7 linked regions of the Homo sapiens genome follow. The protein of the gene in region 2 purifies or fractionates together with the protein of the main gene of each other region. This does not show direct contact. Each region holds a gene or a part of one and is shown on either strand. Other genes may lie near its edges.

Region 1 (3,500 bases), on a different chromosome or scaffold from region 2:
TCATCACACTTCATATACGGGCTTTTACATTTAAAACTTTTTTTAAAAAAAATAAATGTAGACTTTATAGAAAAGTTACAAAAACAGTACAAAAGATTCTTCATTCAGATTCCTCAAAAGTGAAAACATGTAAATTTTAAGCGACATCAACTTGAGATTTTGACTATATTGCAACTCAAGTTGCTTAAACAAGCAATCAATTTAATACCTAGGGAGTATTAATAATCTTAGGACAAGACCAACTTCTCATATCAACAATTCCAAAATCTCCAAAACTGAAAGATTTTTAACTCCTTCAGCAGCAAAACCTAACTGAATAAATCTATAGTCATTATTTACCCATTATAAGGTAAACATTTATAGGTTTCACTGCACAAATAGTACTGTTTGATTACACAGTGCTATCCCAGACCTATGAGGGGTGAATGGAATATACAGTAAATGTGGCATATTCCTAAGGATTTCAGTGAAGGGAATGTAAATTTTCATTGTCACTGTATATTATTTAGTATGTGCCAGGTACTACTTTAGTTGGTATTAAAATTTCATTTAATCCTCTCAATAACCTGGTAAGTCAGATTTTGCCCAAGGTCACCTAATGTATAATCAAATAGTAGAGACAACATGAAAATTTACATTTATCAGAGTCAAAGCTATAACCAACTTTTGAAAAGTTAATAGAAAAAAGTATTGAAAACTAGTCTCTTAGAATACTGGGGGCATGGGAGCTGAACAGAATTCTTTGAAAAAATTTCATTTCCCCTTCTTCCCTCTTTCCAGCAAATACCATTGCAATCATCTAAAACCTTGCTCATTTTCATATGAACAGCTGATAAGACACAAATATCTCAAACAAAGTAACTCTTAAATGTCTATTTTTTCCTCTTAAAGGTGAAGTATAAAACACCAGAATCCTGATTCTGTCTACATTATGTTAATTATCTGGACCAAGAAAAGATTAGAACTATACATTCAATAAGTACATCTTCTGTATTTATGTAAATCAGTGCTTTTCAAATGGGGGTGATTCTGCCTCCTGCAGTGGACATCTGGCAATGTCTTAACAAGAAATTAAAAATCCAAGAGCTCAACCTCTCTAATAAAGCTGCCCACAAAAAAATTTGGTAATATTCAACAAAAGTTAAGGTATAACTAAAATAGGCACTCATACTTTCTTGATGAAAGTACAAAGTGGTAATGTTTTATGGAGACAATGTAGAGTTTTTCTCAAAAGTTTAAATACATTGTACTCTCTAATCCAGTAATTCCGCTTTCTAGGAATTGATCCTACAAAAAAAAGTCAGGTAAGCACACAAAACAATTTGTTCAAGGCTGTTTAATACCGTGTTATGTATAATAATTAAAAACAAGACATAAAATAAATGTTCATGAATATCGGAATAATTAAATGAAATGAGATATAGTCAAAGGTGGAATACCCTATTTAAAAAGAATGAGGCAGATTTGCATTAACAAGAAAAGAGGTTCACAATGTATTGCTAAATGGAAAATCTAGCTGCAGGAAAAAAGGAGGTGCATTTATTCATAAAAAATTAATGTTTAACTTGAGCAGAGTCATGTCACTTTATATAGTTTTAAGTATTTTATATTATGTTTTACTTTATTAGATGAAAAAAGGAGAAAACATGATTAGAAGGAAATGTTACGAAATTTTATTAGTGGTCAACTCTAGATAGTGGAATTATAGGTGATATTTTTCCTTTAAACTTTTTAATGATACAGATGTATTATTTTTACAATAGCTACTATAAACTGATTCCTTCCCACATGCCAGTTACTGCCTATGTGAATTAATACACTAAAAGGCCACAACTCTACAAGGTAGCTATCATGAGCTCCATTTTGCAGACGGTAAAAGACTAAGAAATGGATTCTAAAGCCTATTAGTACATACTATGTTGCTAATCTCCTCCTGGGAAACACTAAAAATGTAAGAAAACTGATCACAAATCTCTATAAATTTATGAGCAAAAGACTTATGCAAGAAGAATCTGATTTGCCATTTCAGAGACCCGGGGAGTTTCAAAACAACCAAAAATATATTAAACCTGGAAAATATACTGAGTGTAATATTCTCGGTAAAAACTTCCCGCATACATTCATGTACCTACAGACACAAAAATGTTATACTTGAGGCCATCTGCTTTTCATTACTGAGAACTAATCTCTGATTACAATCATTCTGAATAGTTTCTTTCATAAAACAGGAACACATTTTGTATTTGAGAAAGCACTAACCAGTTACCATAAACTTCTAACCAGTTACCATAAACTTCAAATTATGTCAATTTCTAAATATGCCAGTTTCAAAACGCACAAAAGAATCATCTCACATTTGATAAATGCAAGACATTACTTTACTTTTTTTTTGAGACAGGGTCTCATTCTGTCACCCAGACTGGAGTGCAGTGGTGCAATCTTGGCTCACTGCAACCTCCGCCTCCTGTGCTCAAGGGATGCTCCCACTTCAGCCTCCTGAGTAGCTGGGATCACAGGTGGGTGCCACTGCACCTGGCTAATTTTTGTATTTTTAGTAGAGACGAGGTTTCACCATGTTGCCCAGGCTGGTCTCAAACTCCTGGCCTCAAGGGATCCACCTGCTTCAGCATTACTTTACTTTTCGAAGACAACCAGGAAAAACGAAAAACCATTTTTACAAATGTTTATGTCTTATATAAAATAAATGGAAAACGTCATCTTCTAATTATGATAACAGCTTTGAAAAGATAGAAGCTTCACTAGAATAATGATAATTCTGATGGCTTTGTCTTTTCAATTTTTGGAAGAGTACAACTGGAAAGGCTCCGTAGTTTACCCGGGTCAACTCCCCACATCATACAACTGGGGCCCAGAGAAAGGAAGTTGATTTGTTCAAGGCCCCACAGTTACTAAGAGGCTGAAAAGGGAGGGACTCCCTCAAGTTTTTAAAAATTCTAAATCCAAAATCTTGACTTCTGAAAGGTATTATCTGATAATTTAGTTGGCTACTTAAAGAACTTTGGGATCCTGTTCTCTTCTGTACTCTTGGGGCCTTTTCAACCCAACATTTTCAGACAGCAGCAAACTAATCTCTGTTATATTATCTGTACTCAAGAGTTCAAAGTCCCCTTCTTCTACATTGACAGCTTTTAATTGAAATCTTATTTGGAAACCCAGTGGAGAAAGAAAATAAAAGCAGAGCTGCCTTGATTAAAACAGTACAGGCGTCCTGTTTTTACTCGTTTTGTCCTGGAAGCCCCTGAAATACTTTCTTGGTATCTTAGTTCTCAAAGAAACAGTTTATTTCTAATGTATGAGAGTGTTCCAGGGCGCTGCTACTCAAAATATGTTTCTCAAACAATGAGCATCATTGAGGAGCTTGTTAGAAATGCCCAATATCAAACTCCAACCCAGGCCTACTGAAAAATCACAACAAGCATACTTAACAAGATGCCTAGGTGACTGGTATGCACATTAATGTTTGAGAAGCTTCTCAAATG
Region 2 (3,500 bases):
TCTAGCCACATTTTTTTCCAACGAAAATGGGGTCCTTATATTTTTTAGAAATATATTTATTAGAAAACTTTTAGTAGGGGTGTATTGCTGGAGATGAAATAAAATGTGAGAGTGGAAAGAAAGACTAGGAAAATAGCCTCCCAAATACAGAAAGCAGAACAATTCGGGCGGGGCGCGGTGGCTCACACCTATAATAATCCCAGCATTTTGGGAGGCCAAGGTAGGAGTATCACGAGGTCAGCAGATCGAGACCATCCTGGCTAACACAGTGAAACCCTGTCTCTACTGAAAATACAGAAAATTAACCGGGTGTGGTGGCAGGCGCCTGTAGTCCCAGCTAATTGGGAGTGCAGTGGCGCAGTCTCACAGCTCACTGCAGACTTGACCTCCTGTTCTCAAGCAATCCTCCCTCTTCAGTAGCTGGGACTACAGGCACATGCCACCATGCTGGCTAATTATTTTATTTTATTTTATTTCATTTATTTGAGACAGAGTCTCACTCTGTTGCCCTGGCTAGAGTGCAGTGGCATGATCTCGGCTCACTGCAACCTCTGCCTCCCGGGTTCAAGGGATTCCCCTGCCTTAGCCTTCCAAGTAGCTGGGATTACAGACGCCCGCCAACACGCCCTGGCCTCCCAAAGTGCTAGGATTACAGGCATGTGCCACCACGCCCAACCTGTAATTTTTTTTTTTTTTTAAGACGGAGTCTCACTCTGTCGCTAGGCTGAAGTGCATTGGCTCAGTCTTGGCTCACTGCAACCTCCGCCTCCTGGGTTGAAGTGATTCTCCTGCCTCAGCCTCCCGAGTAGCTGGGACTATAGGCACCTGCCACCACACCCGGCTAATTTTTGTATTTTTAGTAGAGACGGGGTTTCATCATGTTGGCCAAGATGGTCTCGATCTATTGACCTTGTGATCCACCCGCCTCGGCCTCCCAAAGTGCTGGGATTACAGGCGTGAGCCACCGCGCCTGGCATAACCTGTAATTTTAAAAAGAAGCTAAATAACAGGTAGTAAAAGATCTCCTTAAACCAACTACTTGGTCAAATTATATTAATCTTTTTATAGCTTTTAATTTATATAGCCAAGCTGTCTTCTGGAAGCTTGTATCAGTTTTTACTTCCACCAGTGATACAGTCAAGTATTCTACAAACACACTGGAAATTATGCTTCTTGTCCAACTGAGAAATGCGTATATTTAAATTAGTGCCACTTTAATATTTAGGAAATAATTTCAGGCTGGGCGCGGTGGCTCATGCCTGTAATCCCAGCACTTTGGGAAGATGAGGCGGGCGGATCACTTGAGGTCAGGAGTTTGAGACCAGCCTGTACAACATGGTGAAACCCCGTCTCTACTAAAAATACAAAATTAGCTGGGCATGGTGGCTCATGCCTGCAATAATCCCAGGCCGAGACAGGAGAATCTCTTGAACCCAGGAGGCGGAGGTTGTAGTGAGCCAAGATTGCGCCACTGCACTCCAGCCTGGGCGACAGAGTGATACTGTGTCTCAAAAAATAATAATAACAACTTCAGGAAAGTCTTTTTTTTTTTAATTTAATATAGATGTTCATGTTCTTGTAGGAAAAGCTGAATCTCAGTTGTATCCATAGTCCTGTTGTTAATGAACTTATGAGAGGAATTCGTTCACAAATGGATGGATTAATCCCTGGGGTAGAACCACGTGAAATGGCAGCTATGTGTCTTGGATTGGCTCACAGGTGAGAATTACTGGAAAATAAAGTCAACTTACTTTTATTTGATAAGCGCTTAACATAGATCTGTTCTAAGAATGTTACAAATGCTCATTTGAACCACATCAGAACCTTATGAAGAAGATGATAGTAATATCCTCATTTACAGATGAAACTGAAGCCCAAGGTCAATACAGCTGGTAAGTGGTAAAGCCAGGATTTGAACCCAGGCAGTCTGGCTCTATTGTCTGGATTCTTAAAACCTTAAAACCTCATCAAAGGAATTCTCTACTACTCTGATCTTGGATGCCCTGTTTCTTGGGCTTTCCCTCCTTTATCTCTGCTAAGTCATGCCACTCCTCCATCTACTTAGTATTCCCCCAAATTCTCTCATCTGCTATGGTCTTATGGGATAGGTGTGTATTTGTGTTTTCATTGCTTTACTCTGATTTTTAATAAGGCAAAGAGGACTAGGTGCAGTGGCTCACCCCTGTAATCCCAACTCTTTGGGAGACCAGGAGTTTGAGACTAGCCTGAGCAACATAGCAAGAAATATGTCTCTCTCTGTGTTTTTTTGTTTGTTTTGTTTTTGTTTTGTTTTTTTTGAGGCAGATTCTCACTCTGTCGCCCAGACTGGAGTGCAGTGGCGTGATCTCTGCTCACTGCAGCCCCTGCCTCCCAGGCTCAAGTGATTTTCTTGCCTCAGCCTCCGAGTAGCTAGGATTACAAGCGTGCACCACTACTGCCCAACTAATTTTTGTATTTTTAGTAGAGACGGGCTTTCACCATGTTGGCCTGGCTGATCTTGAACTCCTGACCTCAAATGATCCATCCGCCTTGGCCTTCCAAAGTGCTGGGATTATAGGCATGAGCCACCACACCCGGCATTTTTTTTTTTTTTTTTTTTTTTTTGAGTCAGGGTCTCACTCTGTTGCTCAGGCTGGGGTGCAGTGGTGCGATCTTGGCTCACTGCAACCTGGACATCCTGGACTCAAACAATGCCACCTCAGCCTCCCAAGTAGCTGGGACTGCAAGTGTGCGCCACCATCCCTGGCTGATTTTTTAACTTTTTGTAGAGACGGGGTTTTGCCATGCTGCCCAGGCTGGAACTCCCAGGCTCAAGTGATCCACTTGCCTTAGCCTCCCAAAGTGCCGCGACTGCAGGGGTGAGCCACCATGCCCAGTCTTCTCCCTATTTTTAATTGCATGTTAACCCTATCATATTTCATTAGAAGTCCCTTAGAATAGGCATTATTGCTATGTTGTGATACATCTGTTCATGAAAAGCTTAATACTTTGGAATTGCACTACAGTTAACAGGGTTGTGAAGAAAATAATGGTAGGTAGTTGCTCAAAACCTGTGCAACTTTGTAATCAGTACTGTCAAATAGTAATCCTAATAAAATTATTACCACAGTTCAAAAGACATTTTAAGCTAATATTAAAAGAAACACTACAGGCTGGGCACGGTGGCTCACGCCTGTAATCCCAACACTTTGGGAGGCCAAGGCAGGCAGATCACAAGGTCAGGAGATCGAGACCACGGTGAAACCTCGTCTCTACTAAAAATACAAAAAATTAGCCGGGCACAGTGGCGGGCGCCTGTAGTCCCAGCTACTTGGGAGGCTGAGGCAGGAGAATGGCGTGAACCCGGGAGGCAGAGCTTGCAGTGAGTGGAGATCGCTCCACTGCAGTCCAGCCTGGGTGACAGAGTGAGACTCCATCTCAAAAAAAAAAAAAAAAAAGGGAGAAAGAAACACTATAGGCCAGGCGCAGTGGCTCACGCCTGTAATACATCCCAGCACTTT
Region 3 (3,500 bases), on a different chromosome or scaffold from region 2:
AATAGACAATTATCAAAAGAAGATACACAAATGGCCAACAAACATGAAAAAATGCTCAACATCACTAATGATCAGGGAAATGCAAAGCAAAACCACAATGTGATACCACCTTACTCCTGCAAGAATGGCCATAATCAAAAAATCAAAAAACAGTAGATGTTGGCAGCCAGGCACGGTTGCTCATGCCTGTAATCCCAGCACTTCCGGAGGTTGAGGTGGGCAGATCACCTGAGGTCAGGAGTTCAAGACCAGCCTGGCCAACATGGTGAAACCCCATGTCTACTAAAAATACAAAAATTAGTCGGGCATGGTGGCAGGCACCTGTAATCCCAGCTACTTAAGGAGGCTGAAGCAGGAGAATCACTTGAACCTGGGAAGCGGAGGTTGCAGTGAGCCAAGATTGTGCCACTGCACCCCAGCCTGGGCAACAGAGTGAGCCTTTGACTTAAAAAAAGAAAAAAAGCCGGGCACAGTGGCTCACACCTGTAATCCCAGCACTTTGGGAGGCCGAGATGGGCGGATCACCCGAGGTCGGGAGTTTGAGACCAGCCTGACTAACATGGAGAAACCACGTCTCTACTAAAAATACAAAATTAGCTGGGTATGGTGGCGCATGCCTGTAATCCCAGCTACTCGGGAGGCTGAGGCAGGAGAATCACTTGAACCCGGGAGGCAGAGGTTGCAGTGAGCCGAGATTGCGCCATTGCACTCCAGCCTGGGCAACAAGAGCGAAACTCCATCTCAAAAAAAAAACAATGTTGGCATGGATGTGGTGAACAAGGAACACTTCTATGTCCTGGTGGGAAAGCAAACTAGTATAGCCACTATGGAAAACAGCGTGGAGATTCCTTAAAGAACTAAAAGTAGAACTACCATTTGATCAAGCAATCCCACTACTGGGTATCTACCCAGAGGAAAAGAAGTCATTATACAAAAAAGATACTTTCACACATAATTTTATAGCAGCACAATTCACAACTGCAAAATCATGGAACCAACCCAAATGCCCATCAATCAACGAGTAGATAAAGAAACTGTGGTATATACAGGATGGAATACTATGCAGCCATAAAAAGGAATGGATTAACAGCATTTGCAGTGACCTGGATGAGACTGGAGACTATTATTCTAAGTGAGGTAACTCAGGAATGGAAAACCAAACATCGTATGTTATCACTGATATGCAGGACTAAGTTATGAGGATGCAAAAGCATAAGAATGATACAATGGACTCCGGGTACTTGGGGGGAAGAATGAAAGAGGGGCAAGGGATGAAATACTACAAATATGGTGTAGCGTATATTGCTCGGGTGATAGGTGCACCAAAATCTCACAAATCACCACTAAACTGGCACAGTGGCTCACGCCTGTAATCCCAACACTTTGGGAGGCCGAGGTGGGCAGATTACTTGAGTTCAGGAGTTCAAGACCAACCTGGCCAACGTGGTGAAACCCTGTCTCTACTAAAAATGCAAAAAGTAGCCGGGCATGGTGGCACATGCCTGTAGTTCAGCTACTTGGGAGGCTGAGGAAGGAGGATGGCTTGATCCCAGAAGGTGGAGATTGCAGTGAGCTGAGATAGCACTACTGCACTCCAGCCAGGGTGACAAAGCAAGACTCCGTCTCAAAAAACAAACAAACAAAAAAACTTGCTCATGTAACCAAATACCACTTGTACACCAATAACTTATGGAAAAATTTAAAAAAATTAAAAATAAACATCTAAACATAGAAAAGGAAAAAAAAATTTAAAATAAAAAACAGAAATGTGAAAAAAATAAATAAATCAGGTATGCTATCAGTCAAAAAATAAATAAGTAAACCCACCATTATCAATAATCATTAAACGTAAATAATCTCAGTAACTCAATTAATTTTCTTTTCTTTTTTTTTTTTTTTTTGAGATAGAGTCTCACTCTGTCACCCAGGATGGAGTGCAGTGGCACAATCTCAGCTCACTGCAACCTCCGCCCCCTGGGTTCAAGCAATTCTTGTGGCTCAGCCCCCCAAGCAGCTGGGACTACAGGCACATGCCACCACGCCTGGCTATTTTTTTGTATTTTTAGTAGAGACAGTTTCGCCATGTTGGCCAGGCTGGTTTTGAACTCCTGGCCTCAAGTGATCCACATGCCTTGGCCTCCCAAAGTGCTGGGATTACAGATGTGAGCCACCATGCCTGGCTTCAATAATTCAACTCAAAGACACGAACTGTCTGATTAAACAGCAAGACCCATTTATATGCTGCCTATAAGAAATTCACATTAAATATAAATAAGGGAAAGTAATAGTATTGAAAAACACATACCATGCTAACCCCTTAATCAATAAAGCTGGACTGGCTGCATCAATACCAAAGGACATTTTAGAACAAAAAAAAATTACTAAGGATAAAGGGGGCCATTTCATAACGATAACAAGCCAATTCATTTAGAGGATATAATAATAATCTAATATTTTAATCCATAAAACATGTATTCACATAAACTGATTGTCAGAATACATGAAACAAAAACTAATAGAACTGCAAGTAGAAAACAGTCACTCAAGAAAAAAATAAGTGGCCGGGTGTGGCGGCTCATGCTTGTAATCCCAGAACTTTGGGAGGCCGAGGCGAGCAGATCACGAGGTCAGGAAATTGAGACCATCCTGGTTAACACGGTGAAACCCTGTCTCTACTAAAAATACAAAAAATTAGCCGGGCATGGTGGTGGGCACCTGTAGTCCCAGCTACCTGGGACGCTGGGGCAGGAGAATGGTGTGAACCCAGGAGGCAGAGCTTGCAGTGAGCTGAGATCGCACCACTGCACTCCAGCCTGGGCAACAGACCGAGACTCCATCTCAAAAAAAAAAAAAAAGAAAAAAATAAGTAACACAAATATCTCTAATCTATTAAACAAAGTAAATTTGTAGTCAAAAATCTTCCTACAAAGACAAGTGCAGGCTCAGATGAATTCTACCAAAAATTTAAGTTGGGTATAAAATGTCAATCCTGTATAAATTCTTTCAGAAAACTGAACAGAATACTTCAGAAATCATTCTGAAGCTACATTACTGATTCCAACACCAAAACATTACAAGAAAACTACAACTATCCCATGAACATAAGTTCAAAAATTCTCAACAAAATTTTAGCAAATCAAATCCAACAAAATATAATTAGAATAGTATATTGTGACCAAGTTCAGTTTATCCCAGGAATGTAAGTCTAATTTCATAATTGAAAATCAATGTCATTCACCACATTGGCAGACTAAAAATGAAAAACCACCTATTTCAATATATGCAGTAAAAAAGCATTTGAAAAATATCCAACATCCAACCCTGATAAAACCTCTCAGCAAATGAGAAATCAAAGAGAACTTCCACAACGTGATAAAAAGCACCTACAAAAAACCTACAGCTAAGATCAGACTTAATGGTGAAAGACTAAATGTTTTCCCCAGAAGATCAAACACAAAGCAATAATGCCCACTTTACCACTACAATTCAAAATTCTGCTA
Region 4 (3,500 bases), on a different chromosome or scaffold from region 2:
TCATTATCATGTGACACAACTTACAATCTTCTCATTCTCCTGAACAAGTACCGGTTTGTCTTCATTTTTCTTAAGCTACAGCTTAAACCTTATAGCCTCTGTTTGAGCATTACCTTGACTCTAAACTTTTTTCCTGGCCAGTAATTAAAACAGCGTAGTCTATCTGAAATGATAAATCTAACAGCCATTCAGTGAAAACAACAGATTTGATTCTGCGGTCAAGATCACACGTCTCTCTTGACTACAGATCACTAGAATACTCCTCTCAAGCAAGAGAGCCAGGCAGTAACAAGCAGGCAGCTAAAGAGCTCTCTAAGCTCTCACCTGATGAGCAGCTGCGTGGATGTTGCGCTTCTCATTGATAATCACATTTGGCAAATTCTTATCTTTTCTTGGAGGACCCTCAGGGGCTTTAATGAGAAACCTGGAAAGCAAAACAACAGGACATCTGACTAGGAGCATTAAGGACTTAGTCAAAAGGGTAGGGAGGACACCGAAGGGCGAGGGGAGAACCCGGTGCCCTTTTGACAGACTTTCTTCGGCATTCTTACCGGCGTCTTTTCTTGGCACTGGGCTTTAGGCCCACACCACCCCACTCGCCCCAGCCAGGTAGTGTCAGGTCCACGTCCTTTGGCTTACTCGCCTCCACAGCTTCCCTCTTCTCTTTCAAGAAATCTCTGATGACATCATCCCCAGCAAAAGCTTCCTTTATCATCTGCCTATGGTTTCTCTCCTCTTCATCTTCCTGGGAAGAAACAAGCGAGAGCTACAGCTTGGCTTATGAGCTGTGGTTCATGGCGAGAACGCTTGAATTTCGGGTCGTGACATTTTAGCGCCCCCTAGGGGGAAGTGCTGAACAATGATGGTCTTGCGATACAAACCAGTGCACAGCCAATCATGCTCAAATTTTCTTCCCTCTAGGGTAAATATCCCTAGCTCATTATCATATGACACAATTTTAAACTTTTCAGTAAGGAAGCTGCAGGGTGGAGGAAGGAATGGCCCGTGTTAGCAGCAGGAGCTCTAAGTGGCCAGACTGTAGGCTTCCTCCAGCTTATATCCCTGAAAAGACAGGTGCCAGGACGCTTCACTTTAAGTTTCAGATTAACTGGGGAGTCTTAGACCATCTGAGATCCCACTGAATAAAACTTTCGCAACAGTTCAATGACTCACCTTCAAGTTGTCCTGCCTGGGATCTGGTCAGAACTCTGAGTTACTCCCTCTTACCTCTGAGAGCAGTTTTAGAGTCACCCCAGAGGAGTTTTTGTGGATCAGGCTTTCGGAAATAGGGGTCTTGGCAGCACCCATATATCTGCATCTATTAAAACGTCACTGGGACTAGCCTGGCCCTATACTATTCTGGACCTCTAAACTACTGAAATGTGCCCCCAGCAAAACAAAGCTTCATTACTCCTTGCGCAAGAACGACACTTTCTGAACAATGGCCCACCACCCTGGCTCTGCTCACCAGCTCCTCTATTGTGGGAACTGCCAAAGACTTCACGGAGGGAGATTGTGTGGTTAGGAGGTTCTGTAGGTCGATCATTTGCTCCTTCTTTTTCTTCTCCTTAGGGGCATCAGGGCGATTATTTGGGGTCCTCTCTGACTGCTGCCCTTCTAACACAGGTCTGGGAAGCTCCTTATTTTGAAAACATTCTTCTTTTCCCAGCTCTTCTAGCTCTTCCAGCGTCTGTACTCTCTCTGGTCTCTGTAGCAACAGGGGCTCCTCTTCTTCTGGGGCAGGTTCCTCTCTCTGGACCTGGGGAATAGTCCCCTCTGAACTTGCTTTTTGCTTCCTGGACTGATGGTTTTCCTTCAATTTCTGAGATAGTACTCTCAATTCAGACAGCACCTCCTGGCTGCCAGAATCTGGGGGAAAAAAGAATGAAAACTGTCAGAAAATGAGGTTTGTACGTTGTCTGGTCGGTAAGCATTTGTTGAGCACCCACCAAGTGCTAGGTACCACATAAGACATTATAAAAAGGACAAACGGGGAAAAGAAGATTCTGTACATTGAATCTCCTAGACAGTACACTAATCATAGCAGGCAACGGAGTTTGGTAATTAAAAGTAGCATGTGGCCAGGTGCGGTGGCTCACACCTGTAATCCCAGCACTTTGGGAGGCCGAGGCGGGCAGATCATGAGGTCAGGAGATCGAGACCATCCTGGCTAACACGGTGAAACCCCATCTCTACTAAAAATACAAAAAATTAGCTGGGCATGGTGGCATGTGCCTGTAGTCCAGCTACTCAGGAGGCTGAGGCAGGAGAATCACTTGAACCAGGGAGGCAGAGGTTGCAGTGAGCCGAGATTGTGCCACTGCACTCCAGCCTAGGTGACAGAGCGAGACTCCGTCTCAAAAAAAAAAAAAAAAAAAAAGTAGCATGTGAGATGTTGGATATGGTGGCTCACGCCTGTATGCCAGCACTTTGGGAGGCCAAGGGGGCAGGATAGCTTGAGCCCAGGAGTTCGAGACCAGCCTGAACAACATAGTGAGAACTCATCTCTACCACCTCCACCCCTCCAACAACAACAAAAAATTTCCAGGCATGGCGGTGTGGATCTGTAGTCCCACCTACTTGGGAGGCTAAGCTGGGAGGATTGCTGGAGCCAGAAGGTCAAGGCTGCAGGAAGCTGTGACTGTGCCACTGCATACTAGCCTGGGCAACAGGGCAAGACGTCTCAAAAAAAAAAAAAAAGTAGCATATTGGAAGCAGACGTCCTGGGTCCTATTCCCAGCTTTGCCAATGATCCACTGTATAACTGGGACTGTGGCTTAAGTTCCTCGTGCAGTAAACCCTGCTTGGGAAGATTGCCCCAAGTTCCAAATTTTAAAAAAGGAAGCCACTTTAACAGGTGGCTTCTCAATGTAACTTCATTGTAATTTATGCTTCACTGCTTGTAAAAACCCTATCCAGGATTTTCATCTTGACTCAAGAATTTCTACTCCATATCTTAAAGCAGTATTTCATAATCTGCTGTGGCTGAGTCAAGGGATGAAGTAGCTGCTTTATCCAGTGGATGTAGCTCACACTTTCACTGGCAACATCTGAGCAAATAACACTAGTCTCAAGAGTCTGGAGGGGCTGGCTTGGCACAGTGGCTCACACCTGTAATCCCAGCACTCTGGGAGGCCGAAATGGGTGATTCACTTGAAGCCAGGAGTTTGAGACCAGCCTGACCAACATGGCAAAACCCTGTCTCTACTAAAAATACAAAAATTAGCTGGGCGTGGTGGCATATGCCTGTAATCCCAGCTACTTGCAGGCTGAGGCAGGAGGATTGCTTGAACCTGGGAGGTGGAGCTTGCAGTGAGCCGAGGTTGCACCACTGCACTCCAGCCTGTATGACAGAGACCTGTCTCAAAACAGTCTGGAGGGAAACCTGGCAGTGACATGCTTCTAAACTGTCTTTTTCATTGACTCAAGTTGCCTCCATTCCCAAGTTGATCCTGCTGTCTAGCTTTGGCATGAAGCCATTGTAGCTCCTTAGATCTGGC
Region 5 (3,500 bases), on a different chromosome or scaffold from region 2:
GGGGTACAGACACATCAGACTGGAACTGAAGTGGGTCTCTCCCAGGTCAGGCTGGGCCTGCTTTTTCCTTGGGAAGAAAACCACACATTAGGGGGCAGGTATGGGGTTGAACCTGGGCTGAGGGTCCATCCTGTGTCCACACAGAGTTTTTGCGGTCTTGGGGGGTAACAATGACCATGACGGGGAGCTGTGCCCGAGCTGCCAGGAAGCCACTGCGGATCTCCACCTGCTCCTCCACTAGAGACAAGAATGGGTCCTGGGTCAGCCTGCTCCTCCCTGTAAGACACCCTCTACTCCCCCAGGTCCTCCTACGGTGCCCCCAACGGCTGCTCATCACAGGTATTTTTCAACACTCCCCCCCACCAAGTGGCAAAGGTGACGAAAGGGACATCGCATTTGCCTCAACTGGGTGGGGCATTAATCGCCCAACCTCAGCCCAGAGGCAAAATTTTCCACTGCTTGGCACCCCCAGTCTGGTTTCCGGGCCTGCACAAGCTGAGTCTTGCCCCTGGCCCCCTCCCACCATGGGCTTCCACACACCTGGGGAATTAGGAACCTGACACCCTGCTCTCTGCAGAGACCGAGTGCCTCACGTTACAACCAGAAATCACCACTCCCACCCCCACCAAGAGGTCTGAGTATCTGTGCTACACTTCCTAGCTCCGTGCCCTAATACTTCTTACGTGGTATTCAGGATCCCCCTTCTATTCTCCTCTTCCTTCCACAGCCCCCCGCCAGGTAGCTTGCTTACCACCCTATCATTCTGTCTCTGACAATTAAGAGCAAACCATGTCATAATGGTCAGGCTGTTCACCTGGACCTCTTCTTCATGTCAGGCTTAGACATCTGGGGCTGGGGAGGCACAGAGAAAACCTAACACTGCCAGGGAAACCCTTGCCTGCAATCCATAAAGAGCTGTTCTTCCAGCAGTCTGACCCCTGTTCTACCACTTACCAGTGAGCTCATTATTGAGGTTGACAAAGAGGGGGTTGTTCTTCCAATCAAACGTTGATACCAAGAAAAGGAATCGAAGGAAGCCAACCTGGGGGGAACTAAAGGGCTGGAGTAAGCAAAGAATCCAGGGCCCAGCCACATATCCCCAGGCTTCTCTCAGGCTATGGAGCTCAGACCCCCTGGTGTGGATTGGCAGGGCAGGGCATCTTAGAACCCCTTCTGCCACTTGCTCAACCACCCATTCCCATGTAGACTTAGGGTGCAGCACGAAGGATGATGGCTGGCCGCAAGGAAACTTCTCAGCTGGGGAAAAAGTGGAGGGAATCACCTCGGAGGGGTGAAGGGCTCAGGGTGCAGGAAAAGGGCAGCGGCCACCAGATCCAGGCTCTCATCAGCGAAACCCTCACCAAGAAGCTGGGCACGCACCCACCGCTTGGCCAGCCGTGCCACACCAGAGAAGGCTGGGTGCTGCTGCTGCAGTCTGCAGAGAGAAGGGGAGTGTCAGCGAGACTCAGGGCCCCACTGCCACTGTTCATCCAGCCCCTACCCAAGGCCAGCCTCAGTGATAATAGGTTACATATGTAATCTCATATTCTCTTAAGAAATGCACCAAGAAGTTGACCCTAGTGTTATTTCCATTTTACAGATGACAAATATAGGGACCAAGGAGGAAAATCTGACCATAGGGTCACAGTCAGTAAGTGGCAGAGCCAGGATTCCAGAACCTGCCTGACTCCAGAACTCATACCCCTAACTATGATACCATCTGGCCCCTGGAGAGACAGGTGGCTAGGTGAGGAGAATGGGGGCAGGAGGGGGCCTACAGACAGGAAGAAGCTGTGTCAGTGGCCTTACCCGTGCAGGGCACTGGTGAGCAGTGGCAACTGCCTTGTGTCTCTCTCAAGGCGGAGGGAGGCAGCTGTGTCCCTCAGCGAGATCATCCCCTCTGGGCTCTGCACCTCCTTCAGGATCTGGGGCTCCCGCTGATAGGCCACGCGAATCCGAAACACAAATCCATCCTGTTGGAAGAAGGTATGGAAAGAGAAGGATGTGTCAGCCCAGAACCCCGGGAGTACTCTGTGGCCTACAGCCCTATTACCCAGCGTGGTACCCACAGGGGTGTCTTCTTCCACGCCCTGACATCCCTGGTGCCCCCCTTCCCTGGGGACATATCTGCCTGCACCAGCCTAACCTTAAGGACATCCGTGTGCGTGGCAGTGGCACGGCACTGCAGACCATGCTGTTGTGTCAACAGCTCTGCCAGGCGCAGCTGGAAGGCAGCTCGGACCCGCTGCACGGCCTCAGCGTCCTGTGGCCACTGGCCACTGCCCTCCAGGTGACAAACCACTGAGGAAGAAGAGTCAGAGGTCTCATACTGTGGCCTGGAGCTGGAACTATCCCTCCCACTCCCTCCCAAGGGCCCTCTTACCGGTCATGGGCTCCACGTAGGCCGGACAGGGCTTATCGAGCCGGGGCAGCAGTGAGGACCGCTCCCGCAGAGTCTCATAGAAGGAGAAGGCTGGACGGACTGGAGTTGGTGGGAACACCTGTGGAAGAAGAGGGGCTGAGGAATGGGCCTAGGACTGGGAGGGAGTGCCCAGAGTCAGGAGTTGGAAGTGGGGAATACTGGGTGACTGGAGCAGAGGTGGGGCCACTAAGCAGAAAGGTCACCTGCACCGTTGCACCTCACCTCTGTGTAGCGCAGCACTGGGTGAGCTCCCTGAACAGCAGACACGGTCAGTGGGAGACCCTCTAGCCCCCACAGTAGGCGACTGAGGTCGTCGTAGCAACGTACCGCCGCTACCAGGGCCTCCTCACCTGTGCTGGAGGTCTGAGAGGGAGAAGACGGTCAGGAGGCTGGACCCTACAGAAGGCCAGCTTCACCTGGATTCTGCCCCAGCTCAGGCTGCAGCAGAGCCAGCACCGCCGCCTGCTGGACATGCCAGGAAGTGCAAGCTGGCCAAGGCTGAGAGGACTCTCTCCCCGCAGATTGATTACTCTACAATCACTAGCCTTGACCCCAAGACCCTTACCTCTTTCAGGCCTTGGATAAGTGCATCCAGGGGGCCCCCCACATAGTGGACACAGGTTTCTGGGATGTCAGCATGGCTGAAAAAGAGGCAGAGACACAGTGAGAAAATTTGGGGCTATGTTCTCGCTCAACTGCCTGGGCCAGACCCCTGAAAAGGCTCCCCAGCCCACACTGCCTTCTGGAATCCAGATGCCAACACTCACAGTGCCAAGAGGTGGGTGACCACCTGGTGGGGAATAAGGCGCTTCTGGGACATAGAGGCTGCCTCCCAGACCACAGCTTCCCGAATGGCTCCGTCCTGGAAACGCCGAAGCTCCGAGCGGGATCCCCAGAACTGGCGGAATTTAGCAGCCTGAGGAGGCAAGGGTGGTAGTAGAGCTGGGGAAGGAAGGGCTCTGTGGACCCTCCCCAACAAGCTTCAGTCCAGGTGCCATGAGGACGAGCCACCCCATTCCTTCCAGTGTACATGCTGGGGTCCCCCACCTCAGGCTGGTCTGCCTCTGGACCCAGCTCA
Region 6 (3,500 bases), on a different chromosome or scaffold from region 2:
GAAATCATGTCCTTTGCAGCAGTATGGATACAGCTGGAGGCCATTATCATAAATGAATTAACACAGAAACAGAAAACCAAATACCTACCTTACAATGCTCTCACTTATAAATAGGAGCTAAACACTGGGAACTCACTGACATAAAGATGGGAATGATACATACTGAGGACTATAAGGAAGGGAGGGAGGGAGGGAGGAGGTAAGGGTTGAAAAACTACCTATTGGGGAACGCTTTTACACTGTTGGTGGGAGTGTAAATTAGTTCAACCATTGTGGAAGAGAGTGTGGCAATTCCTCAAGGATCTAGAACCAGAAATACCATTTGACCCAGCAATCCCATTACTGGGCATATACACAAAGGATTATAAATCATGCTGCTATAAAGACACATGCACATGTACGTTTACTGTGGCACTACTCACAATAGCAAACTTGGAACCAACCCAAATGTCCATCAAAGATAGACTGGATTAAGAAAATGTGGCACATATGCACCATGGAATTTTATGCAGCCATAAAAAAGGATGAGTTCATGTCCTTTGCAGGGACGTGGATGAAGCTGGAAACCATCATTCTCAGCAAACTATCACAAGATCAGAAAACCAAACACTGCATCTTCTCACTCATAAGTGGGAGGTGAACAATAAGAACACATGGACACAGAGAGGGGAACATCACACACTGGGGCCTGTCGGGAGGTGGGGGCCTAGGGGAGGGATAACATTAGGAGAAATACCTAATTTGGTGACAGGTTGATGGGTGCAGCAAACCACCATGGCACCTGTATACCTATGTAACAAACCTGCATATTGTACACATGTAACTCAGAACTTAAAGTATAATAAAAAAAAGAAAAGAAAAGAAAAACTACCTATTGGGTACTTTGCTCACTACCTGAGTGATGGGATCATCTGTACCCCAAACCTCACATCAGATAATATACCCTTTGTAACAAACCTGCACATGTACCCCTGAATCTAAAATAAAAGTTGGAAAAAAAAAAAAAAAAGAAATCAAGCTGGTTTCAGATGACTCAACCGCCGGAGATGAGAGAACAGTATTATTTAAAATGCTAGCAAAAAGCCAGGAAAGCACTTTTACTGGGTGACACAATTCCAAAGAAATCACACCACAGTGTATCTGAATGGCACTTCTTACTTTCCACAGCTGCCACATGTACTTTCTTTTTATTTTCACAATGCTCTTAAAAGGAAATGGGGAGATACTGTAATTCTTATATTTCAGGTGAGAAAATAAAAGTTAAATGATTTGGCAAAGCTACAACATTAGTTGTATCAATGCTCTTAGTTCTTCACCCAAATTCCTTTCCAACTACCCTGACAGTGATTATTCCCAATATGATCCAAAAGGCAAACAGCCTGCTTAGAATCCAGATCCCTGAAAACACAGCTGAAGAGCTGGTCCCAAGACACCCTCTGGATAATAAAAACCCTTTCAGTATGGCTCAACCAAAGTGGTAGGATGGGAAGTTGGACAGGGTGACTAACTAGATGGAAAATGAGGTACCATCATCTCAAGGCAATGACATTTCACATTGACCTTTTCTCTCCACCTGAAAAGAGTGGACTTACTAAATGGAATTAAGATAATTCTATAGAAACCTGGAAATATTATATAACGACACAATATTACCTCACTCATGGCAGGTATATTGGTAACAATGACTAGGCTTCACCTAAATCTAGTTTAATGCAATGAACTTTTCTGCCCAACACTTTAATATTTAAAAAGTATTACCTTTAATAGTTTCTCTGCGTTGCAGTTTGTAAGTTTCCTTGTCATGACACAGTCGATAAATAAAGAAACCCAGGTGATCAATGTTTTCAATGCGATCAGTAATAACCATGTGCTCATGAATCAGATAGGACTGAGGCAAATAGGTTCCAGCCTACATTCAGAAAAGAATACATGACATGACTATCTCAGAACATACACTGAGTAGACTAGAGAAACAAGACAAAATTCTTACACATTATGGTATGGAACAGGTTGCCAAACTACTACCCACCATCTGTTTGTTTATGTTCTCACTATGTTGTCCAGGCTGGTCTCAAATTCCTGGCCTCAAGCAATCCTCCCACCTAGGTCTCCCAAAGTCCTGGGATTACAGGCATGAGCCACCGCCCCCGGCTTGTTTTTATAAGTAGAATTTTTTTTGGAATATAGTCATGTTCATCTGTTTTACGTATTGTCTATGGCACCAGAATTAAGTAGTTGGCTAATATTTACTCCCTGGCTCTTTAGGAAAACTTAAAACATTATTTGAGAAATTTATTTCAATTTCAAGATATAAAACATTAAAAACAAAAACCATGAGTATTAGTTCCTCTTTGTAAAATTCTTAACTACAGTCTGATAAAATGGGCTCCTATAGGGCTAATTTCTCAACAGGGAATTCCAGAACACTATGAAGGCATCATTCATCAAAAACAGTCAACATTCTTATACCTTGATGTTAATAAGTAACTCCAGTAGGTTTCTGGGTGGCATAACAATGGAAGTGTTCAGAGGGATCACATAGCACTTATCCAGGTTAAGATCTAAATAGGCTGTAAGTTTCTGGGAAGAAAAAGATACAGTGTAGTTACAGTAATACTTGCAAAAACAGGCAGCAACTGGATTTTTAAGAATAATTTGTATCATTAAAATGAATTGGCTTTAGAATGTATAAATCACTTGCATTTCAACAAATTCAGAATTTGGCTGGATAAAGTTGGAAGTGGGAATGGGAGAGGAAAAAATATTGCTACCAGTAAATAAAATGCTCATCGAGGGTATATTTCTATAATAAGTAATAATACCTATTCAAATTAACTGCAAATACTTATTATATAATTAAGCAATTTAACTTCCCCACTTATAAGCTCAAATGCCCTCTAAGGTTATCTGTCCATTGTTTGTAAAGATTAAATTTTCTCATATGTATCTTGAATACTACCATCCTTAGAACATTAGAAAAACAGTCATTTAAATGATTTTGTGTTCTGTGGTTCAAATGAGAAACGCTGGTTGAGAAAGACTGTCTCATAGAACGGTTTTTAAGAATAACTTAAATCAAATAATGTCAACATTTTGATTCCTAAGAGCTCAGTAAGTGTTAACTATTATTATTTACTATTTGCTTTGGAAGTTTATTTCCTTGAAATAAGTAAATTTTCAAACTGGTTTATAAACATCCATCAGATGTATTTATCAGGCACGAAATGTTTGCAAAGCTAACTTCAGTAATATATTCGAGTGTTCAAAATGGCAAGCTTACAGAGAGACATAAAAATCACAGGTGATACATGAACTTCTGAATCTCTGAATCCTGATTTGAAAAAACAAAAAATTCTTGGGACAAAAATTGGGGAAATGTAAACATAAACAGAAATGTAAACATATTAAATACAGTAGTCCCTCTTATCTGAGGTTGTGCTTCTCGAGTTTCAGTTACCTTTAGTTAACTACAGTCCACAAATACCTAGGTGAGTACAGCA
Region 7 (3,500 bases), about 25 Mb from region 2:
ATGAATAAACTTTCTCTTTTACTGAAAAAATTAAAATTCCATTTGCCAATTTCAGAATAGGGTAAAAGTGAGACATTTTCAATACTTAAAAATAGTGCAAAAGAAAACTAAAATTTAAGTCTAAGATTAGACTATTTTCCCCTTTAAGAATACTGCACGTTAACACTAAATTCAGACAACCCTAGAAATAAAGGGCTAATATTAGATATGAAAAAAAATACATAAAAGTGGGGCATTCTAAAACACATGGGTCCAAATTAAGTGTTCATTTGTTTTCTTAAAAAACAATGAAAAAGAAATGAAAATAAATATTTACAAAGAACTAATATTAAGCATAATGTATATGATATATTTTAATCCCTGAAATCAAAAAAGAAAAGATTAGTGTCTAGAAACTGTTAGTTTATGTACTTTAAAAGGAAAGGAAAAAACATAGTCCTGATAAATGGCATTTTCACTATAGTTCTCATCAATCAGTCTTATAATCCATCAAGAAGACAGAGAGAAACCACCCTACCATTATTCAGTTGGTTATAGATGTGAAATGTTTTCTGTTTCTTTATACCAGCACAAAACAGTAAGTGACAGGGGGTGCAGTATAGATAATTTATCAAATACCTTCGATTAAACACAATTTCCTTTTAAAAACACACTAGTAGCACGCTTTATACATACACTATTATCACCACAGAGTAAGAGGACAATGAATTTTCTATTTTACTCTAGTAGAACAAATATCATGAAATTGACATTAATGTAAAAATCTAGGAAAAATACAATGTTTAATAATAATATATATATGATTAGACAAGAGCAACATATCAATCTAACTTCCTAAAAATTCTGGATGTAAACCAAAACAATATTTTAAGTTTACTATCATAAATTACCACAAATTTAACACTAAACTGAAATTAATAACTACTTTGAGACATGCAGTCTGTTTGGAGACATTAATGCCTAGTACTTTAATAATTGCTTGGTGATATTAGAATCTTAGCTTTTAACTCTTTCTCTTGGCATTATGAACTTGAAGCCATACCCAAATTTTGCAGCAATATCATACACTTGTTTTTCATGTTGAAGAACCTTCTCACGATCCCCCTCAAACAGTAATGTGGCTACACTTAGCTGATTTGGGTCAAATCCTTTAAACTACAAAAAAAAAAAAATTTATTATTACAGATAAGTCTTATCCTACAAAACAATAAATCAAAATACATTTTGCTCTTTTCCTTCTGATCTGGGCTCAAATACACTGATTTCTTAAAAATTGAGCTTTGGAACTTTACATGTCAATCACTAAGAATGTTTAATAAACCTATTTAGGTCATTACAACGTAGCAAAGCTATTCAGCATAGAAAAAAACACTTTATTTCAAAGTATGCCACAGTGTTAATCATAATAACATATTGCTTATGTAAATACAACAAATAACTTGTTGAAATAATAACTATGATAAAGAATCAAATAAAAAACTGCAGAATGATAGAATAAAGTAGCTGGATATATTGGGCGGGAAGCAAAAATCAACAACATCCCTACATACTAACAATAACTTCTTATTAAATAAAGTTTTCAAAGGCGATCTTATGCATAAAACAAAAACAGTATCTAACAATCTTAAAAAGAAATATATTAGGAAACATATCTAAAACACATCCAAAAAAAGATGAGTAAGACGTATGCTCCCAAATGCATAAACTAAGTATTATAAACCAGTCAATATTTCTCCAAATTAATGTACTAGTTTATTCCAATTCTAATTAAAAAACACAATGAACTTCCTAAAATGATGAAAAGTTTCTAAAATTTTTCTAGAATAATAGGTGATGGTGATAACAAGGAAAATTCTGAATAGCAAGAGGGAAAAATAGACCTACAACAATGAAATCTATTTAATTTTTCAAGAACAAAAAGCTCATTAAAAAAGACTGAGATGCACTAAAATGGAATCTATTTCTTAGATAAGTATATAAGATATGAGGCATAGCAAATCAATGTATGAGAAGCACAGATTAATTAATGGTGCTGCCACAACCGGTTAACAATTGGAGGAGCAGGAGGTGAAGATTAATTTAGATCTTTTTCACATAATAAAATTGAAATAAATACAAATAGTAATAAAGACTTTTTTTTTTTTAAATTCTCATTTAGTATAAGAGAGAGAGAGTGAAGAAAATGGCCCTGATCATATTACTGGAGGAAGGAAGGCTTTTCTAAGCTTAGACTATATTAAATAATCACAGGAAAAGATATAAAAATTTGAAACTTTTACACCAAAAAAGAAAAATCCCTATTAAAAAAGGAGATGCCTGACTGGGAAAAAAAATTACTTACAACATTTATGACAAAGGACATCTAATAATTCCAATCTCAAAAAAAGATACATCAAAGTACCAAGAAAAAAACATGAAGCTGCACACCCCCCACCACCACCTGGCAAAAATAACCATATCCAACGAATTCACACAAAAATTAGATCTAGAAAATAAAAAAAATGTTAACGTTCAGTCTCATTGGAGCTTCAAAAAACATGAACTAGAAGAAAGTACTGTTTTCCCCCTGGTAAATTAAAAATGTAACAAAAAGAATCCCACATGGAATAACAAGGATGCAAGGAAAAGAAGGCACACATGTATTATAAGATGGCTTAACACTCTAGGAAAAAAATTCAACAATCAAAGGTTAAAAAAAATCCACACTCTTATTTCACTTTATGGATACCTTCCATAAAGGAAAAAATTTAAACTATAGAAAATGTTATGAAAACAAAACTGTTCAAATGCAGTGTTATTTTTAGAAGCTTCAAAACTGGAAAAGAAATAAAATTTTCTGAAATTGACTGCCTGATTTACTTAATATTTATTCCAACATGAAAAACTGTAATTCTGAAATGTACATAGCAACATGGAAAAACACCCTTACAATAGGTGCATGTGGGAAGAAAGCAGAAAACAGATATCTTAAGCATTTACAATTTTAGCATTTTATAAAAATTCTTACCTTTGTAATATAAAACTTTTTTAATCCGTCCAAAAATGATGTAAAAATAGAGGAAACCTGAGGTTTAAGAGCATGACCTAAGAAGAGAAAAAAGTTTATATTAATAGGTTAGTCTATGTTTTTCAGAAGATCAAGAAGCTACTCCAACTTAGAATCCTAAAAGAAAGTAAAAGTTTTCACAACTTTAATTTTTAAAATCTTCCCGTGTTATTTACATAAATATTTATATTACGATATATAGTTATATTAATATTTGCTACTTTTATCTTCTTTCAAATGTCACAAACAACTTTTTATTTACAAAACCCATTATCAATTTGATTTTTTAAGTCAAATCACTATATGTAATTAATACTACACATAGTTTAGGTTTTCTTTCAACGGTATGGTTTACACATAATAAAATTACTTCATTAATTTTTATTTCATTAAGAACACCCATGGTGGCTGGTTTTACTTTTTTTTTTAATTATATAGAAACTATTCAGAACTA

Evidence for each region.
Region 1: the proteins of NOP58 (region 2) and ZNHIT6 purify together in Homo sapiens (co-immunoprecipitation; 2 studies listed by BioGRID and IntAct, with this or other methods). This does not show direct contact.
Region 3: the proteins of NOP58 (region 2) and DDX24 fractionate together in Homo sapiens (co-fractionation; one large-scale study listed by BioGRID). This does not show direct contact.
Region 4: the proteins of NOP58 (region 2) and UTP14A fractionate together in Homo sapiens (co-fractionation; 2 studies listed by BioGRID). This does not show direct contact.
Region 5: the proteins of NOP58 (region 2) and NOL6 fractionate together in Homo sapiens (co-fractionation; one large-scale study listed by BioGRID). This does not show direct contact.
Region 6: the proteins of NOP58 (region 2) and ITM2B purify together in Homo sapiens (co-immunoprecipitation; one large-scale study listed by IntAct). This does not show direct contact.
Region 7: the proteins of NOP58 (region 2) and AGPS purify together in Homo sapiens (affinity purification with mass spectrometry; one large-scale study listed by BioGRID and IntAct). This does not show direct contact.

The regions. Positions count from the first base shown.
Region 1 is NC_000001.11:85,698,434-85,701,933, forward strand, and holds part of ZNHIT6 (box C/D snoRNA protein 1), read right to left. Parts: intron 1-3,500. UniProt on the Homo sapiens protein: Required for box C/D snoRNAs accumulation involved in snoRNA processing, snoRNA transport to the nucleolus and ribosome biogenesis.
Region 2 is NC_000002.12:202,282,763-202,286,262, forward strand, and holds part of NOP58 (nucleolar protein 58), read left to right. Parts: intron 1-1,582; coding exon 1,583-1,719; intron 1,720-3,500. UniProt on the Homo sapiens protein: Required for the biogenesis of box C/D snoRNAs such as U3, U8 and U14 snoRNAs. Part of the small subunit (SSU) processome, first precursor of the small eukaryotic ribosomal subunit.
Region 3 is NC_000014.9:94,071,203-94,074,702, forward strand, and holds part of DDX24 (ATP-dependent RNA helicase DDX24), read right to left. Parts: intron 1-3,500. UniProt on the Homo sapiens protein: ATP-dependent RNA helicase that plays a role in various aspects of RNA metabolism including pre-mRNA splicing and is thereby involved in different biological processes such as cell cycle regulation or innate immunity.
Region 4 is NC_000023.11:129,923,164-129,926,663, reverse strand, and holds part of UTP14A (U3 small nucleolar RNA-associated protein 14 homolog A), read right to left. Parts: intron 1,870-3,500; coding exon 1,469-1,869; intron 746-1,468; coding exon 552-745; intron 425-551; coding exon 325-424; intron 1-324. UniProt on the Homo sapiens protein: May be required for ribosome biogenesis.
Region 5 is NC_000009.12:33,463,925-33,467,424, forward strand, and holds part of NOL6 (nucleolar protein 6), read right to left. Parts: coding exon 3,470-3,500; intron 3,339-3,469; coding exon 3,190-3,338; intron 3,064-3,189; coding exon 2,988-3,063; intron 2,786-2,987; coding exon 2,645-2,785; intron 2,502-2,644; coding exon 2,384-2,501; intron 2,302-2,383; coding exon 2,147-2,301; intron 1,974-2,146; coding exon 1,810-1,973; intron 1,436-1,809; coding exon 1,283-1,435; intron 1,053-1,282; coding exon 955-1,052; intron 238-954; coding exon 113-237; intron 1-112. UniProt on the Homo sapiens protein: Part of the small subunit (SSU) processome, first precursor of the small eukaryotic ribosomal subunit.
Region 6 is NC_000013.11:48,257,206-48,260,705, reverse strand, and holds part of ITM2B (integral membrane protein 2B), read right to left. Parts: intron 2,581-3,500; coding exon 2,470-2,580; intron 1,910-2,469; coding exon 1,759-1,909; intron 1-1,758. UniProt on the Homo sapiens protein: Plays a regulatory role in the processing of the amyloid-beta A4 precursor protein (APP) and acts as an inhibitor of the amyloid-beta peptide aggregation and fibrils deposition. Plays a role in the induction of neurite outgrowth.
Region 7 is NC_000002.12:177,497,273-177,500,772, reverse strand, and holds part of AGPS (alkyldihydroxyacetonephosphate synthase, peroxisomal precursor), read right to left. Parts: intron 3,085-3,500; coding exon 3,008-3,084; intron 1,156-3,007; coding exon 1,043-1,155; intron 1-1,042. UniProt on the Homo sapiens protein: Catalyzes the exchange of the acyl chain in acyl-dihydroxyacetonephosphate (acyl-DHAP) for a long chain fatty alcohol, yielding the first ether linked intermediate, i.e. alkyl-dihydroxyacetonephosphate (alkyl-DHAP), in the pathway of ether lipid biosynthesis.